Linked DNA regions of Homo sapiens. The protein of the gene in region 1 purifies or fractionates together with the protein of each later gene. This does not show direct contact. Each region holds a gene or a part of one and is shown on either strand. Other genes may lie near its edges.

Evidence for each region.
Region 2: the proteins of MC2R (region 1) and MGRN1 purify together in Homo sapiens (affinity purification with western blotting, with the first as the bait; one study listed by BioGRID). This does not show direct contact.

Annotation. Positions count from the first base shown.
Region 1 is NC_000018.10:13,912,562-13,917,115, reverse strand, and holds the start of MC2R (adrenocorticotropic hormone receptor), read left to right. Parts: upstream 1-1,579; 5' UTR 1,580-1,628; intron 1,629-4,554. UniProt on the Homo sapiens protein: Hormone receptor primarily expressed in adrenal cortex that plays a key role in regulating adrenocortical function. Upon corticotropin (ACTH) binding, facilitates the release of adrenal glucocorticoids, including cortisol and corticosterone.
Region 2 is NC_000016.10:4,683,642-4,687,447, reverse strand, and holds part of MGRN1 (E3 ubiquitin-protein ligase MGRN1), read right to left. Parts: intron 3,606-3,806; coding exon 3,516-3,605; intron 1,190-3,515; coding exon of another isoform or gene 1,149-1,189; exon of another isoform or gene 1-1,148. UniProt on the Homo sapiens protein: E3 ubiquitin-protein ligase. Mediates monoubiquitination at multiple sites of TSG101 in the presence of UBE2D1, but not of UBE2G1, nor UBE2H. Plays a role in the regulation of endosome-to-lysosome trafficking.

The DNA.
Region 1 (4,554 bases):
CCCGCTTTACACCAGGCAATGGAGTCCTAGAGGCCTGGCACTCAGAACTCTGACCGCGTGTCTTCTGGTTCTAAACTCTGTCATTTCTACTCTGCTCCTTCCAAGAGATTTTTGCCCCCTTTTCTCTAAAAATTGGAGAGAGATGAGCCCCCAAAATGGAAGAACTAAAATAGCAATAGCTACTCTCTTTGCAGGGCTTAGCCAAACCCCTAGGCAACCTTCCCCCTGCTGGAAGTCTCTCCCTGTCCCTCCCAATCAGAGTGGCCCAGGTCCCACCCAGGGGACTGGCCGAGGCTCGCCTCCTCCAGACAGTGTTCCCATTGTCTGCAGCCTGCCTGATGTCCCACTCCCCAGGGCTGGCCACCGGTTTTCCCAATCAGCTAATCAGATCCACAGATCTCTGACAAAGGGCCTCTGCTTCTGCAAGTACAAGGGCTAAGGACGAGTTGTCTCTACTTTTCCAGATAATACAGTAGCTTTCTGGAGGCAATGCCTTGCTTTTCTCTGTTATCTCAACTACATGACTGAAGAGGGAAAGAGGCCTGTGGAACGCCGGGTTTCAGCTGCAGGGCATGTTGCGGAGGCACACACCTACTCAGAAACAGTCGAAGTCTGGGATGATCCTGGGTCCATGAGTTCCTGGGGACAACACGCTTTGCCTCAGTGACAGGCCAGGAAAAGCCACTTTATAAAATTGTGTTTACCCGCCTGGCAAATTCAACTCAGGTCTCTCTCTTTGGTCTTTTCCAGACCACCCACGTGTGAACACTTTTTAGCTTGGGGCGGAAGCTCACATTTCAGAAACAGCCACTGGTTTGGCCCCAGCCCCAAAAACCCAGGACCATCTGGAAACTTGGCCCAATTCCACACTTCAACATTCCTGTTGCTGTGACTGACACCAACAGTAGCCCTTCCCTGCAGGCCCCGGCAGGCAGAAAACACACAGCATTGCACCCTAAAATGGAAGAATTTTGCTTTGAATGATGGCTCTTATCTATGGCGGTTTCTGTGAAGTTTTTGGACGGAGAAGCATTGGCAGAACACAGGGTTTTTTTCTTGTCTGGACCCATGCGTCATATGTGCACTTGAGCACACAGTTCCCTCACTCTCATTGTTTAGTCTTGTGAAATAGGGATAATGGGGCTATTCCCTTCTTCTTAATGAAACTAATGAGCCAAATATTTGCAAGATATATCAAGAAGTTTGCTAGAAGTTTTAAAACAAATTCTTCCAAAACCATTTTCTCAAAAACCTGATTTATTTAATTCCTTAGTTCTTTTTGGAAATAAATGCAACTCTAAAGTGGCATTTAAAAAGAGCAAGATGACAATTCCATAATCTGCTAGAAACATTGTCATAAACATTGGAAGTAACCTTGACTAGCTGAGCTCATGGAAATTATGTCTTCATCTGCCTGTGTCTTTCCATTTCTCTAACTTCACATTACCAGAAATGCACAGTTCATGTGGGATGACATTTATTCAAGGTAATGATAACAATCTAGCTGTATCTCCGGTGATGCATGTGTTCCGGCCCTTCCCGGCCCAAGGTCCACTTGCTTGCTTTTCTCTCCGAGCTCATTCCTTCTCATTCATTTTGCCCAGAAAGTTCCTGCTTCAGAGCTGAAGGTAAGTACATTTTCCACTAATTCCTCAGCTTGCTAAGTGCTTTTGGACCATGAATAGAGCAGCTAGGAACAAATCTGAGAAGAGGTACTATTCAGAATTCCTCCAAATAGCTCATCTTTTTAATTATGGGCTTTCATCCTTCCTAAGGGAGTTTATTATTTTTCTAATTAAACTACTACAATGAAGGCTATTACCTTTTTGTCTAGCTAAAACAATCTTCCCTATTAATGAATTTATTGGCTTCTCTAGTACTCTTCAAATTGTCATTGAGCTCTATTCAAGGACTACAGCCAGTTTTTTCCTAATAGAATTAGGGGTGAAACAAATCATGCTTCTATTATCACTTCTGGAGTTAGCCCCTTCACCTGATCAGCTTGTCTAGGTGTAAGAGTGCGGGGGTTTTAGCGCCACAAAGACGTGGGCATGCGGCAGCTTCCTGAACCTCAGGCATTGGTGTCTAAGCAACTCCACCATCCACACGTGTGACGTTACAGTTCTGGGAGATGCACGCACACTTTCTGTGCCTTTCTCAACCACTAGCTCAGTCAGCCTCCACCTTCCTAGGCAGCAACACGGGGTGCAGGATAAACAATAACTAAAAGCATACTGATTATCACATACTCCTGCAAAGTGTTTGCACCCAGAAAGCATGCAGTCACTGCCATCATGAGGGGCTCACACCTTCCTTTGGCTGGCTCTGTCGGGGGGCACATGTTACCTAGAAAAGAGGCCCAGGCATTCGATTAAACAGCTCTTCTTCATATTTCAGTTTGTCTAAGCTGCCTTCAGATAACTGTCCCCATTCTTCACTTACACACACACACTCATACACACACATATACACACATACACGTGCACACTTGTAAACATACATACATACATGCATGCAAAAAGTCCAAAAGGGATAGGAATGGGAAAGGGGTACAAAGGGGTCCAGAGAGTACAGCCTTGAGCAGATCAGAAGGAGGAGTGCTCCTCACATGCCCTCCCCACCCCATCCCCGGAGTGGGAGTGAAGCGGTGGTCACAGGCTCTGCTCACACATTCATGCCTAGATCAAGCTGTACCGAACCCTTATGTGCTGGGCCTTGTTGCAAGCCTAAGTCAGAGTGGAGCCTCCTGGAGCCCCGGCGCTGAGGACAGCGCACACTGAGACAACACTTCACACTAGCTCCCAGACAGGACACACACCCACAAAGAGCTGTGGGAGCAGGGAGACGGGAGCCCTCACCCTGCCTTTGGGACACCGCTTAGGCCGCGGCAGGGGTGGAGGAGGGCATGAACCAGGGTAATGGGGTAGATAAGCTCCAAAGCCATCCTGACTTCTCAGTGGATCCTGAATCTCTGGCAGAGGAGGTTTTTGCTCAGCAGCAAATTGCCCTCTCACTGCCTCAGAGCAACTTAAGACATCTTAAAAAAAAAAAAAAATCCTATTCTTTACCTTGTTAATGATCCCAGGTATGTTTCCTATGGAATCCTTAGTGTCTAATACATTTTAATGAGAGCTTTCTTGTCTGTGTAAGCCACATTCCTTGCCTTCATTAGGCAAATATAATTGCTGTGGGCCAGGTTGTCTGCAGGGCTCAGCCTCAGACATGGTCAGGGCAGGTCTTATCCTAAGGAACTCAGATCCATCTGCAGGGTTTTCATGTGAATAATGCCGTTGTAGAAATAAGAACAAACAGCTACAGGTGCATAGACGGGCAGCAATCCTGGGCTCCCTTGGGATGCGGGGGCAGTGGAAGAGAGTCTGTACTTGGGCAAGGACACAGTGCTGAGTGTGAGAAGTGAGGAAGGACGTGTCCAGGCCCAGGGAGAGAGAACGTGTGAACAGACAGGCAAGCGCTGGTGCAGACCCACCCAGTGGGCCTTAAAGTGTGGTGGAGTCCTAAAGTCTTAACTTCTCTGTTCTCTGACTATGAGCCGCCAGGGTACAAAATTTGGAAGATGGTTTTAAAGTAAGTTCTCAACTCAAAATATGCGTGTGCCAAGCGCTGTGCTAGCAGCATGGGTAACGCACAGAGCCTGACTTGGTGGGAGAACAACATGTGCAAACTACAGAGACTAATCAACCTAGTAGGTGTCCCAGCATCAAAACCTGGGGGCAGCAAGCGTTTGTGTGAGCAGCACAGCCGTGGCAGGGAAAGGTCCGAGTGGGTCACACTGGCAGGAAGGCACCGTGGAGGAAGCCTGCCATGAGCAGTGAAGCTCAGAGGACGGGAGATGTGAGCGGGTGGAAGGTGGTGGTCCAGGTGAGGCTGTGCAGGGAGCTGAGCATCACACTGATTTCCAACCAGAACACTCCAGCCTGGGCTTCATGCCTCCCTAGCTGTGAGCTCCTGCAAAAGCTTCCATTCTCGGGACTTTCCTTCGCTCGTCCTAAGATGTGATCACATTGTCATTCATGCCTAATTTCCAGTCTTGTGTATATTAAAAAAGAAATTATACTGTAAGCAGCAGTTCTCTGTGAAGTGTCGGAAAAGCTGTAAACCTGCCCAGCGGCCTGCAAGATGATCACACCGAGAGATGCTTCTGCCTGTGCCCGGCATGGGGAAAAAGAATAAAGCCACCCCCAAAATAAGGCTCCCTTGAAGGCCTCTCATAATTGAGCCTATGCGGAATTCAAAACAAGATGTGCGCTGGATTCAGATGAGCCATTGCCTACCATAGCGAGCTCTGCTGGCTGCAGCCAGTCTTCACAGTGATAAGCGTAACTTATAACTCTGTAAGATCAACATCAGTAAGTTCAAGGAAAACTGACTTCAGCTGGAGACAGTGACTGGGCCCTAGCAAAGCAGTTGGGATGGTCCGGGAGCAGAAAACAACGTAGAAATTCATCTGTCCTTGAATTTTTCCTATTTCAACAGAGTATTGATTAATTGATTAATAATAATCTACAAGTTTTATTATGGTGCTATGTTGTTATT
Region 2 (3,806 bases), on another chromosome or scaffold:
CAGCACCCCTGAGTAGCTGGGACCACAGGCACAAGCTACCACGCCCAAGCCAATTTTTTATTTTTCATAGAGAGGGGGTCTATGTTTTCTACACTGATCTTGAATTCCTGGGCTCAAGTGATCTATCCCCTCGGTCTCCCAAAGTACCGGGCTTATAGGTGCGAACCACTGCCTGGACAGAGCCGCCTTCTGTAAAACACTCACCTGGGCCACCCTGGTAGAGGGCGCCTCTTGGGGGGGATGGGGGATGCCAACCTCACAGGGCCTCCTATCTTTTAGTGCTGGTGTTCCAGAAGGTTCCAGTACTGGGAGGGACAGGTGAGTCGGCAGCAGTGGGCTCATGGCACAAAGGCAGCCCACGAGGGACTGTGTGCCAGGCCCATGGTGATGCCAGGCCCACGGTGGCCATGCTGACAAGGGAAGGAGGGAGCGGGGGAGCAGGTGGCTGTGTGAGCGGACGCCCTCAGGACAGGACGCAAGATACTCTCCCCTGGGCACCAGAGGGCCCCTCGAGGACGGACTCCCTCCAAGAGACAGGGACTGAGCTTGGGAAGACGTGATCCAGGGGCTCTCCCAATCGGGGCGCATTCTTTCCCCATGAATTGTTAAAGCCACGACCGGAACACGGGAGTGGACCTGCTGAGCGTCCTAACGTGTCTGCTGCAGGACCGATGCGAACTCATGGTGGGACCATCCGGAACAAGGCCAGGCCCAGGCCTCTCCCCTTGGGACGCTCACCCCATGTCTCCCTGGGGTTCCCTCCACGGTGCTGCCCTCATCCCTCAAGCTCCTGCCTCCCGCAGTGGACAGTGGCTCTGGCGCACCTGGGCTGTGTCTGTCTCCCTGCCTGGGCTGGGACTGTTCCAGGGCCCCTCAAGGCTGGAAGAAGAGCCTGACCGGCCGCCTAGTCCAGATGGAGAGACCTCTGGCCCCGAAAGTCAGGACCCCCCAGGAGGCCACTTTCTGGGGGAAGGTGCAGCAGCCACTGGAGAGCTCTGGATTCGGAATCCAGGGCCCCTGGGAAGATGCGGATGCGGACGAAGACCCAAAAACCAGAAGGAACCCCCGCCAGAGAGCAGGGGAGGGCTCCTCTCTCCAAGGACGCGCGTCAGAGCCCCCGAAGCGCGTCTGGGAGGTCACGTACCGGCTTACTCGTCTATACCAACAGAGCAGGAGTCGGGCCCCAGGGCTGCGCGGAGAGGGGGAGAGACAGACGGAAGCTCGGTTAGCAAGCGCGCAGCAGCCAGCACAGCCACAGCAAGGGCACCAGCTTGGGGACACGGTCGAGGCCGTCTAGAAACAAACACTCTGCTGCAACCACAGAGAACCACAAGGAGAACCACAGCTGGGAGGCAGAGCGCAGCCAGAATTCAACGCGGAGGAGCGCACTGGCCCTGCCCCTCCCTCCCATACCTCCCGCTGCCGCAGCCTAGGGAAGGGCGCATGAAGGACCTAACGGGCGCAGTCCACCTCTGGTTTCAGGAGTGAAGGCCCTGGGTGGGGGGCTGAGGCTAGACAGGACCGAGCTCAGGGCCAAGTCCAAGACACCAGGGCCCCCAGTGTTCACCATCTCATGGGCCCTCCCATCTACAGGGACAGCAGGGTTCAGTGATGCCGCCCACCCCGCCAGGCAGCGGCTGCACCCCTATGAGAAACCAAAGGCTCTGGCGTGTGTTCATGCCTTACGCACAGACACGGATAGACAGTCAAGGGCTCTGTGATGTGAAAAAGTCAGTGGAACAGAGGGGCCACCACATGGATTTAAAAACACACAGAAACCTGTGCTGACAAGGCTGACAGCCACGGAGATGGCGCCAAACAGCCCCCAAAGGCACATGTGCTCTCCGTGGCTCAGAACTGAGGCCGTGCAGGCTGACCTGCTGGCATTCAGCAGCAGCCAACTCCAAGAGCGGGGCCCAGGGCCCAGGAGTTCACCTCAGGCTGCCCCGATGTAGACTCGGCCTCTCCTCTACCGCCTCCACAGATGACGACTGCCTGCCCCCGTCTGTGGGCCTGAAGAAGGCCCGAGACCCTCCCCTGTGGGTGGGGCATGAGACTCGGAGTCCTGGCCTCCTCTGTGTGGGCCTCCTCTGTAGCTGTCCCAATCCTTCCCAGGCCTGGCCACAGAGGGGAGGCGCAGCCTCTGAGATGCTCCCCCACAGGGCCACCCTGCAGGATCAGATATCATGTTCGTGGCTCCCAGAAGCTGAGGTCCTTCTGGCCTCTTCCCCGATCACCCCCCAAGTTTTTAATCAGAATGAAATATTTGAGATCCTCTGAAAGACCTTACTCGAATTCTGTGTCACTTTAAGGTAAGCTGGTCCTAAACACACCTTCTGCTGTGAGTTGTTCGGGGCAGGCCGCTGTGGTCATCAGGGCACCAGAGGCAGTGCCTGCTCCTGCACCTGCGACCTGTCACGCCCAGCCCATGAGCACAGGCCACTGCTCAGCCAGAGTCCGGGGGCACAAGAGCCCCTTTCCAACTAAAGCACGTCACAACCACCCAATGTCAGGCCCAGGTCACCAGGTGACTCAGGAGGATTGAGCAATGGTGGGCCCTGGGGCCAGGAAGCGGGTGAAGCCTGGCAGCCGCGAGGGAAGAGCCACACTCCCTAAGCAGTGGCTCTGGGGTCATGTCTGAAAGCACCGTGGCTGTTTATCGCAGTTCCAGAGCCGCAGACAGCCTCGTGGCAGGTGCTGAGACACTAGTCTGAGAGCCCCCATTCCCTCCCGGTCTTTAGAGCTTAGGATTCGAAACTGAGGATCTTATCCCAGCAGAGCAGAGCACGAAGGTGCTTGGCTGATGGGGTCTGGGGCCCGAGCCTCCGGGAAAGGTGAGAAGAGCAACCCTCTGTCCCAGCCTTGCTGCCTTGCTGTTCCCCGCTGGCGCCTGGCGCCCCCGCCGTCCTCTGTGCCTGGCCTGGGATGTGCTGCTGCATCAGGTGGCCTCTGTCAGGCCCGGGGCAGGGTGACCCAGAAGACACTGCCCCTGCGCTCTGTGGCCCAGGGCCCCCGCTACCCAGCACAGCGTGTGGTACCTGCTCCTGCTCTGTCTGCAGCTCTCAGGCACTGCCAGGAGCGCACGTGGCACCCAGCATGGGGCCTGTGGGCCCACGATAGGACCAGGAGTGGGGGAACATGTGGTGATCCCAGTGGGGCCGGATCTGCCCTCCTGGCGTGAGCAGCAGGCAGAGGGAAAAGGACCCCATCCTCTCACAGGCAGCCTCTCTCGCGTCTCTCACCTCCTGTGGCCAATGTGGCCCCAGGGAGGGAAGGGGCTTTGGTGCAGGTTCCGCTCCCAAGAGCCAGGCCCTGCCTGAGGCTGCTTTGTGGCCATGGCCCTGGCCCGCATCCTGCTTCACGGTCAATAGCAGGGGCATGGCTGAGAGCCAGGGAGAGAACCAGGCTCCAATGGACAGCCTCTGCTGCTATGCACCGACCATCAGAGCAGGGCCCCCTCCCTGGGGACTAAGACAGGCACCCAGCCCCTCACCCCCAGACCCCCAGCCCCTTACCTGGCAGGTAGATGTCAGCAGGTGGGCCTCGGCCACAGTGCTCGGGGCTGCTGTCCTGCAGGACATTCTCAATGGAAGCTGCTCGGGTCCCTGCAGGCAGAGGGTGAGGTTAGGGACCTACAGGCAGGGGCCAGGTCCCGGCAGGTCCCTCTGGGCAGGAGGCCGTCTCTCTTACCCAAGGGCTCTGTAGCCACTGTGGGGACCCCAGGCTTGTGCTCCAGCAGGACTCCACCGTGACCCCACCTGCTCTCCAGGGACCCCAAAGCTGGGTGTTTCCCTTCTATTTCCCTC